Regions from separate parts of the Homo sapiens genome. Here region 2 is reported to be linked to region 1. Evidence: microRNA targets listed by miRTarBase, many of them from high-throughput screens and not tested one by one. Region 1 holds a microRNA gene; the other region holds the end of a gene's coding sequence.
What was found. Region 1 holds the annotated microRNA hsa-miR-548az-5p (CAAAAGUGAUUGUGGUUUUUGC, at 1,651-1,672, opposite strand). A microRNA usually pairs through its seed, bases 2 to 8, with sites in the 3' UTR of a target mRNA and lowers its output. Matches are read on the target gene's strand: a 7mer-m8 pairs with bases 2 to 8, a 7mer-A1 pairs with bases 2 to 7 and ends in A, and an 8mer does both.

Region 2: miRTarBase lists NT5DC1 as a target of hsa-miR-548az-5p. Seed matches in the 3' UTR shown: 7mer-m8 at 2,341-2,347, 8mer at 3,045-3,052 and 8mer at 3,658-3,665.

The regions. Positions count from the first base shown.
Region 1 is chr8:119,322,449-119,326,861 of GRCh38, reverse strand. It overlaps MIR548AZ (microRNA 548az), which reads right to left and starts at 1,691; the gene lies at 1,597-1,691.
Region 2 is chr6:116,243,448-116,247,860 of GRCh38, forward strand. NT5DC1 (5'-nucleotidase domain containing 1) reads left to right here. Exons shown (of 12, transcript NM_152729.3): 12 at 462-4,413. The coding sequence ends at 577. Among named protein-coding and RNA genes, the nearest start is that of TSPYL4, 8.4 kb to the right of the region's middle.

The sequences.
Region 1 (4,413 bases):
GAATAGGAATTAGAATTTGAATCTTTCAAAGCTACACCAGAGTTGTGTGGGTAAACTGGAAACAGACAAACTCAAAAAAGACAGAAGCTCAGCTTCAAATTAATTCAATCCTCAAAGGGAAGCAAAACAGAACAAAGATCAAAGCCAAGGATATCCTATCTCTTTCATATCAGTTACCAGAAAGGAAGTGACCTCTCTTACCCAAGGCCAATCCCTCCTAGGGCTCTGCCTTATTTATCCTCTCTCAATCTTGTGTTGTTAGTTATCTTTGCTCTCTCTCCTGTACCTATAACCACACCATAAGGCATTTTTATAATCCCAAATTCCTTATTCTTTTGGCATGCATCGTGTCATGAATTCAGAGGGATTTGTTTCTTGCTACACTAATCTTCACAGAAAACCTTCCTTGAGTAGAATTAACTAGCACATCAGCTAGGCATATGGACTTTTTCTGGGCTTCCTTTTATTTTTCCCCCAGATGATTTTCATTAACACATTTCAGGCTACTGTAGATTGCTTAATATGTTAATTAAACACATTAACTTTCTTGTCAAGAATCTTGCTTTTTGATTACTTACTGTTGTGCAAGCATGCTACATTGCAGACCCTTCTAAAAAAGCCCATGAAACACTGTTGGGTAGGGTCCACGAAATTACACATTTTAGCTGAATGTCTAGCCAAGGGTTAAAGTCAATATTCAGCCTAAGTTGAAGTTGAAGATGAATATCACTTCATGGCATGAACTTCTGGGAAAAAAGAATAAATATTAAAATTTCCACATTTTATTTTAATTTTGTCATTAAAAATGCTCAAAGTCAAAGTGTATAATTTGACATTACTGTACAACACAATGATTTCCCAGCCTTCTCAGTGGAGGTCAATACACTAAACCTGTGTAATCCCAATACAGTAGACTCTCACTTTCAATTTAGATCAAAGGAGGAGCAAGCTATTCTGTTTTGAGCTCTGCCATTGTAAATATTGATGGTGAAATGGACCCTAAGATAAGATTTTCTGGGAAGAATTGCAACATATAAAGCATATATGGATATTAATTTTTACTCCAAGTCAATTTTGAATATATTTGAAAGTGAATGTTTAGGTAGTAATACTACACTTTGAATGATATGCAATCCTTCTAACTAATATTTTTATGGTGATAATAATTTTGGTTGTCTCATCCTTGATCATCAGCAAGTTTAGAGTTCCGGAGATGATAAGTAAGTCTTTCACTATTCTTCCAAAGAGCAAGCTTGAATCCCAAAACAAATTTTGTAAAATTTCCACGTCAAATCAAATTCTGGTACATTTGTGTTGTGGGTAATTTCTTATTGCATAGTATCCATACTCTCAACACCTTCAATATCATTTACTTTGTTGATCAGCATATGCAGTACCAAAGGAACTTAAAGTTGCCAAAGCACACAGGCCGAGTCTGTCTTCCATATTCTTATTATTGGTTAGTTGTTTTATATGAATGATTATAAGATGGCAGTTTTGATAGACCAGTCCCATGCTACACCACTGAAAGTGCTCTTGCCAGAGTCACCAATAATTTCTTTAACTGATCCTCAACTGACTTGATCTCTGTGCAGCAAATTTATTAGGTTGGTGCAAAAGTGATTGCAGTTTTTGCCATTAAAAGTAACAGCAAAAACCACAATCACTTTTGCACCAACCTAATACAATCTTGAATATTCCCTACTTTGTGAAATATTTTTCCCTATTATTATTACATTTTTTAAACTTTCTCTAATTACTCTGCTTTTTCCCAGTTTGTTTTGAATTTCCCTGCTTTCTGCTAATCTCTTGTATATGAATTTTCTTCCAGATTCTAGCCTAGATAGAATTTTTATTTTTTTGCTTCACGTAGCCTCTCTTTGAGGATTATATTTTTCATACTCACAAATTCAATTATATAATTTCAATCATGATTCTCAAATCTATATCTTCAGCCAAGATATTTCTCCAGAGCTTCAGATCTAATTTGTTAGTCACCTAGTAGATATCACCACATAAAATCCTATAAATATCCCCCTTTAGTGTCCTTTTTATCAGTGAAATTACCACCATCTACCTAATTATAAAAGCCAAATACCCAATAATTTTCCATGACTTGCCCTTTTCTCATTTACTTTTTATATGTAATCAGTTATCAAGCCTTGTGTTTCTATTTGATAAAATGGCTCTCCTTTTATTTTTTGCTTACCTTCATCTTTTGTTATTATCATAGTTCAGGCAATCATCTTTTGTCTTTAGTCTCAAAACACCTTCCTTTCTGGTCTTCCGTATTTTGAATTCATTACTTCCAAAAATGTTTCTATTGGAGCCAGAGGGATGGTTCCAAAAATCCAGTCAGATCATAGCATTATCCTGATTAAATATCATCCCCCATTACATTTAGAATAATACTTTGGGGGTTATTTATAAACTGCCTTCATTTAGCCACTCAATCCCATCTTTTTTCCTTCTCTCTTGTTTTCTCTGCTCCAAACATTCTGAAATTTTCTTTCTTTCTCTGAATAAATCATGATTATTCTTACCTCTAGGCCTTTGCACAAATAAAAGTTTTGATGAAGAAGTTTCAAGTTAATGGTTTGTGAATGTAAGACAATTCTATTTTTTTTTTCAATAACTGTTGCCAGGTTTGCTTTGTTGAATTCCTTCCCTGCTGGGCAACAAGAAACAGTGATATCTCAGTTTGACAAATAACTTTTTATTTACTTCTGATTAAAAATAGTCTTAATTTGGGGTAGTAAAACTTTCCTTTTTTAAAAGCTTGTGCAGGGCTTCTGTATAGTATACGTATTGAACAGGGTTTATGTGTCGATATGGATAGGGTTGGATGTGTTGTTGGCTTTCTCCCTCTCTTTATCTTTTTCCCAGTGCCTGTTGTATTGATGATGATGTAAAGGGGTGTGTGCATGTTGTGGGTGGGGGGGTGTGAATGTGTGTACGTGTGTGCATGTGTGGATGTCTATGTAGTATGAAGGGGGAGATGGTAGAGGAGTGGGATGTCTTTGCTTATGCTGTATTAGTGATAGTGAGGTGTTATGGTTGAATCACCTAATACACACTGTTTCCTTATGTCTGGTGTTGTTACTTGGTCTACACTGAGAGAAGTCAGATGCCAGGTTTAGAGTTATAATAAGATTGATCTGATTTTTGGAAATATCCTTCTGGCTAAGTTGAAACCCATTAGGAGTAATCAATTAGAAATATAGGCAGTCTTCTAAGGCTGACAAAAACAATAAATTGGGGAAGGACTCCGTATTCAATAAATGGTGCTAGGATAACTGTCTAATCATATGCAGAAGAATGAAACTGGACCCTTTCATCATATACACAAATCAGCTACAAATGGGTTAAAGATTTTAATGTAAGACCTCAAACTATAAAAATCCCAGAAGAAAACCTAGGGAATACCCTCTTGACATCAGCCTTGGCAAAGAATTTATGGCCAAGTCCCCAAAAGCAATTGCAGCAAAAACAAAAATTGTTAAGTGGGACCTAATTAAACTGAAGAGCTCTCCACAGAAAAAGAAACCATCAACTGAGTAAACAGACAACATATAGAATGGGAGATAATATTCCCAAGCCATGCATCTGACAAAGGTCTAATATCCAGTCTATAAGGAATTTAAACAAATCAACAAGCAAAAACCAAATAACCCTATTTAAAAATAGACAAAGAACGTGAACAGACACTTCTCAATAGAAGACAAGTGGCCAACAAACATGAAAAAATGCTCACCATCACTAATCATGAGAGAAATACAAAGCAAAACCATGAGATACCATCTCACACCAGTCAGAACAGCTATCATTAAAAAGTCAAAAAACAGCATGTGCTGATGAGGCTGTGGAGAAAAGGTTACACTTAGACACAGTTAGTGGGAATGTAAGTTAGTTTAGCCACTGTGGAAAGCAGTTTGGTGATTTCTCGAAGAACTTAGAACTACTATTTGACCCAGTAATCCTATTACTGGGTATATACTCTTAAGGAATACAGGTCATTCTACCAAAAAGAGACATGCACTCATGTGTTCACCATACTATTCACAATAGCAAAGACATGGAATCAACCTAGGTGCCCATGAGTGGTGGGCTGGATAAAGAAAATATATGTATATCACATGTGATATATATATATATCACATATATATCACATTTGATATATATATATATATCACATATATATATGATATATATATCTCATGGAATACTACACAGCAATAAAAAAATGAAATCATGCCTTTGCAGCAACATGGTTGGAGCTGGAGGCCATAATCTTAAGCGAATTAATCAGGAACAGAAAACCAATACCACATATTCTCACTTATAAGTGGAAGCTAAACATTGAGCACAGATGGATGTAAACATGGGAATAATAGACACTGTGGATTACTAGAG
Region 2 (4,413 bases), not on the chromosome of region 1:
AAAGATATCTAACTCTTCATCCTAAGTGACCTTTGATAGACCTTTTCTGTAATATGGGAGAAAGAATAAAATTAAATTGTTTTAAATGAGATAGGAAGTGAAAAATAACCTGGTACATCCCTTTTGCCTCTTAAAACCTTTTTATATTCAAGTAATGTTTCTATACTTGTGGATATTCTGTTAGACATGGTTATCTCATTCACATTTAAATGCCTAGAAGCCTTTTTTATAGCTGTTGTAAAAGTTTGTCTTTATTAGCCATATGTATTACAATGGTGGTTGGTTTATACACATTTTTAACCTTATAATAATAGCTACACACAGACCTACTGAAGGAGCAAAAGAAATATTAAAATTTTACGTCTAAAAAATAAGTTTTATTAGTGAATATCAAGTTTTGATTTGTTTATGAAAGGCATTCAGAGACCTGTGCAATAATTAAATTTTTTTTTCCTCCCCAGAATTACCTCTGGACTACAAATTTACAAGATTCTCTTCAAGCAATTCAAAAACAGCTGGCTACTATCCAAATCCTCCACTGGTCTTATCAAGTGATGAGACACTGATATCCAAATAAGTTGTCTTTACTGAAAAATGAAGTGAAGACCCATATATGCAGTTAAAAAAAAGTTAATTTTCAAAAAATACTGTAAAAGACTTTAAGGAACAAGTTTTATTGACCAATAAGTTGATATTTGTCCATAGGTCTCCTTTCTATAAATCATCTTGATGTTTAACAACTCTTATTATATTAAAATCTCAGTATCCTAAAACTTAGAACCTTATTGATATTTTCTATACAGTAGTTTTGTGATTAGAATTCACCTGGGGACACACACTCACACGCACAGTCACTCTTACACATATGCCTAGTCCAGTGGTTCTCAAAGTGTGATCCATAGACTAATAGCATAGCATTACCTGAGAACTTGATAATGCATATTTGCAGGCCCCACGCAAAACCTGCTGAATCAGAAGCTCTGAGAGTAAGGCCTACCAATCTGGTTTAACAAGCCCGTCAGGTGATTCTGATTTACAGTACAGTTTGAGACCCACTGGCTAGAACATATCCTCCAGAGACTTGGCTTAATTGGTCTGGGTAAATATGGCTGAGCGTTGTTATCTTTTGTTATCTTTTATATGCCCTAGGAAAGTACAACCAGAATTGAAAACCAACTGATCTATACCAGTTCTTTCAATTAATAGTCAAGAACATTGAGTCCAGTGAGATTAAGTGATTTTTGCAGGCTATGAGGTTTTATGCTATTCCTGTGTTCTCCAAAACAAGAAAATAAAAAGACATGACTTATTCTCTGTTCATACAGCAAGTATGGAAAAAAGATGATCTAGAAGTCAACTATCTCAACCTCCATTGTTACCCACTAGGTTTTTTTCTAATAATGTTAAAGGCTATTTAATTTATTTAATCAACTTTAAGCATTACATTCTCAATTGGGGACAAAAATTGGTTCTTGGGGTGAAAAAATATTAGATATGGCTTGTGGACTTCCAATATCATCCTATCCAACAAAATCTTATTCCTTAGTATTAATTTATCTCATTGGGAAGAAATTTGTAGTTAAAACTATTTAATGTAATTTGAATTTAATTTCTGTAATTGGGAAGGAGGGTAATAATGAACAAAAAGTTTGAGAAAAAAATGCTTTAATGGGTTTTACAGGCATGCTACAATCCAGGACTGTGGTGTTCTATGTGCCGTGTATGGTCATATTAGTAGCTATTTGTTGCAAGATACTTGAAGCCAAATGTTTGCAGTATAGGTTCCTGGCTACTGTTTATGCTGTGATTTCACTCTGTCTATCATGGGCAGTATTAGAAAACACACTGGTTTTCACTATCTGGTTTACAAACACTATCATTATTTTACCTGGATTGAAGTGCAGAATTTGGCATATCGATGCATGCAATGGAAAGAAAAAAAATTTGTTAAAATTTGTAAATGTTCAGCTAAATCTCAGATATACTGTGGGATGAGTATCTCAGGGTAAGTAACAAAAAAACAAACAAAAAAAATCACTGAAATTTTTCCCTCACAGTCAGTAGCTTTGTTTGATATTTAACAATAAGTATATGGTGATATACTTGAAATTTATGTCCAGAATGTCACTGGAATATTACAATGAGCATAAATAATCAAGCTTAGGACTAAATGAAAGATACTATCTCATGTATGCTTTAAATAGAGAATTTATTTCTTTTAAAAATAAAGCTATCTTTCCTTATCCATGTTTACTCTGTAAATGGCAAATAATACATCTTTAAATGCTTATGAACTACTGTTAATATGAAAAATGAGAAGTCCAAAATAAGAAATAACTGCACTTTTTGGGCCACTTGAGTAGTGGCGGGGGTTCAGGAGGCAGAATTCAGTTGTCAGAAGTTCTAGTATTCCCTTTATCATTCCACCTAAAGACCCTGAACAAGTTACCACCAAATTTGGCTTCAGTTTTTTCCATCTTATGAAAGGAAAAGTTTAGTTTATTTCTAAATTTCCTTCCTTTCTAGCAGTCAGTATTTCTTCTAATGAATGTTTTTTTTCTGTAATTAGAAAGACTATAATTAGGCTTTTTAAATTTGTATTTTCATTCTTTGTAAAGAGTGCCAATGGATATGAAGATTAAAAATAATCCAAATCCATAAAAATTAAAAAGAAAATATTAAAGAAGTTATATGAAGCAAAAAAATTGTATAAATGGACAGAAGACATGTAATATTCGCATACAGGCAAACATTCATAATCTAAAGGACACCTAAAAATAGATGTAAGCGAGCGGAGGTTTTCTTTGCTGGCCACTGTTTATCGCATCAGCAGAGGAAAGATCTGAATGACTCAGTGACCAAATGTTTTGTCAGAATCTGGTATTTGGAATACTGAGGTAGTAAAAACTTTATCTGAACCATGAATTACAATCTAAAATCAACTTCTGAGTTTGTTAAACTCTAAACTGAAATCAAGTATTATTTCCCCACCAATATTCATATCCAAAAATAACTTTAAATACACACACACACACACACACACACACTTTTAGTGAACTGGTTTGAATGAAAATAAATTTATATAATTATTTTATATAACAAATCAGCATAAAATGGAAAATCAAACTGCCTCTCTAGATATAATAACCTTCACTGACTGTTGGAAATACATGGATAGCTTTTTAAAATCTTCAGTGTTGGAGTAACAGTCCCTTACATCTTTTCAGCCTCTTGAGTACAAGAAGACTATCATAAGAGTTAGTTCCAGATTGGTGCAAGACTGGAATACACTTGACTGCTTTTATTAAAGCCATGAGGGCATACCAAGTAATTCACCCAGTATGGTCTTATTGCCACCCTTGAAAATCCCTGGGCATGGTCCAGTCCACATAGAATGAATTCAGAAAGGTGTCTCTTGTTGGTCTCTAGAACTATCCTCAGAAATAATAGTAAAACAGTGGTCATGAGTAGCCTCACTAGGCTACTTCATGTACATTATCTTGTTTACTCTCTATAGCAACCATATGAGATGTATATAATTATTAAATTGTACAGATGGGAAAATTGAAATTCAGAGAGATTAAATACAATGCTTGCTCTGTGTTACACTGTTAGTAAGAGAGCAATACATGAACCCAAGTTTGATCCTCAAAATCACACTTTTAATTACTTGATACATAATGTCTTCCAATATTGAATCTAGACTAGGGCAAATTCTCAGCCCAAAACCACACTTCAATTTAGCAATAATGTCGTGCTAGGACATGAGAGGGATTAACATTGAAGACACAGCCTCTATCTTTAAGTAATTCATAATTTAGCCAAATATATTAAATATCTGTAATATAAAACTTACCTAGGAAAGTAAAATAGAGATCCAAGAATCAGGAGTCCTAAAGCATATAATGAGTCTGTTCCTCTTGGAAGCCACACATGTCAAGGTCATCAGTAAGCAGGCCTACTCTTTCTTCATATTCTGGGTTAATGTTCACCTTGACTGCTTGGTAAATTTCCCTCACTGGTGCTGAAGTAACCAAAATGGGGAAGGAGTGATGAAAACTCATCTTTGAGTAAGCTTAGTGGGAAATAGTATATCTGGGCCTATAGAGAAGTTGGGTCATTACTTAGAATGACAACTGGAAAAGTACATAGACTGCTTGCCAATCAGTTTGTTGTACCATGTACCTGTTCACAGACTCTTTTCAAAAAACAAGTTTATTTTACTTTTTTTGGTACTTTGGTCATGTTGTTTCCTTGGTAAAGATCAAAGTTGAATAAAGCTTAACAAAGTTTAATAAAGAAAAGGAATAAATTACTATCTAAATGTGTTAAAAGCAATCACCAAGTTTAATCACTTAAAAAATAAATATTCTCTTAACAGAAATGTCAGCGGTTACTTACAATGCTTAGCAG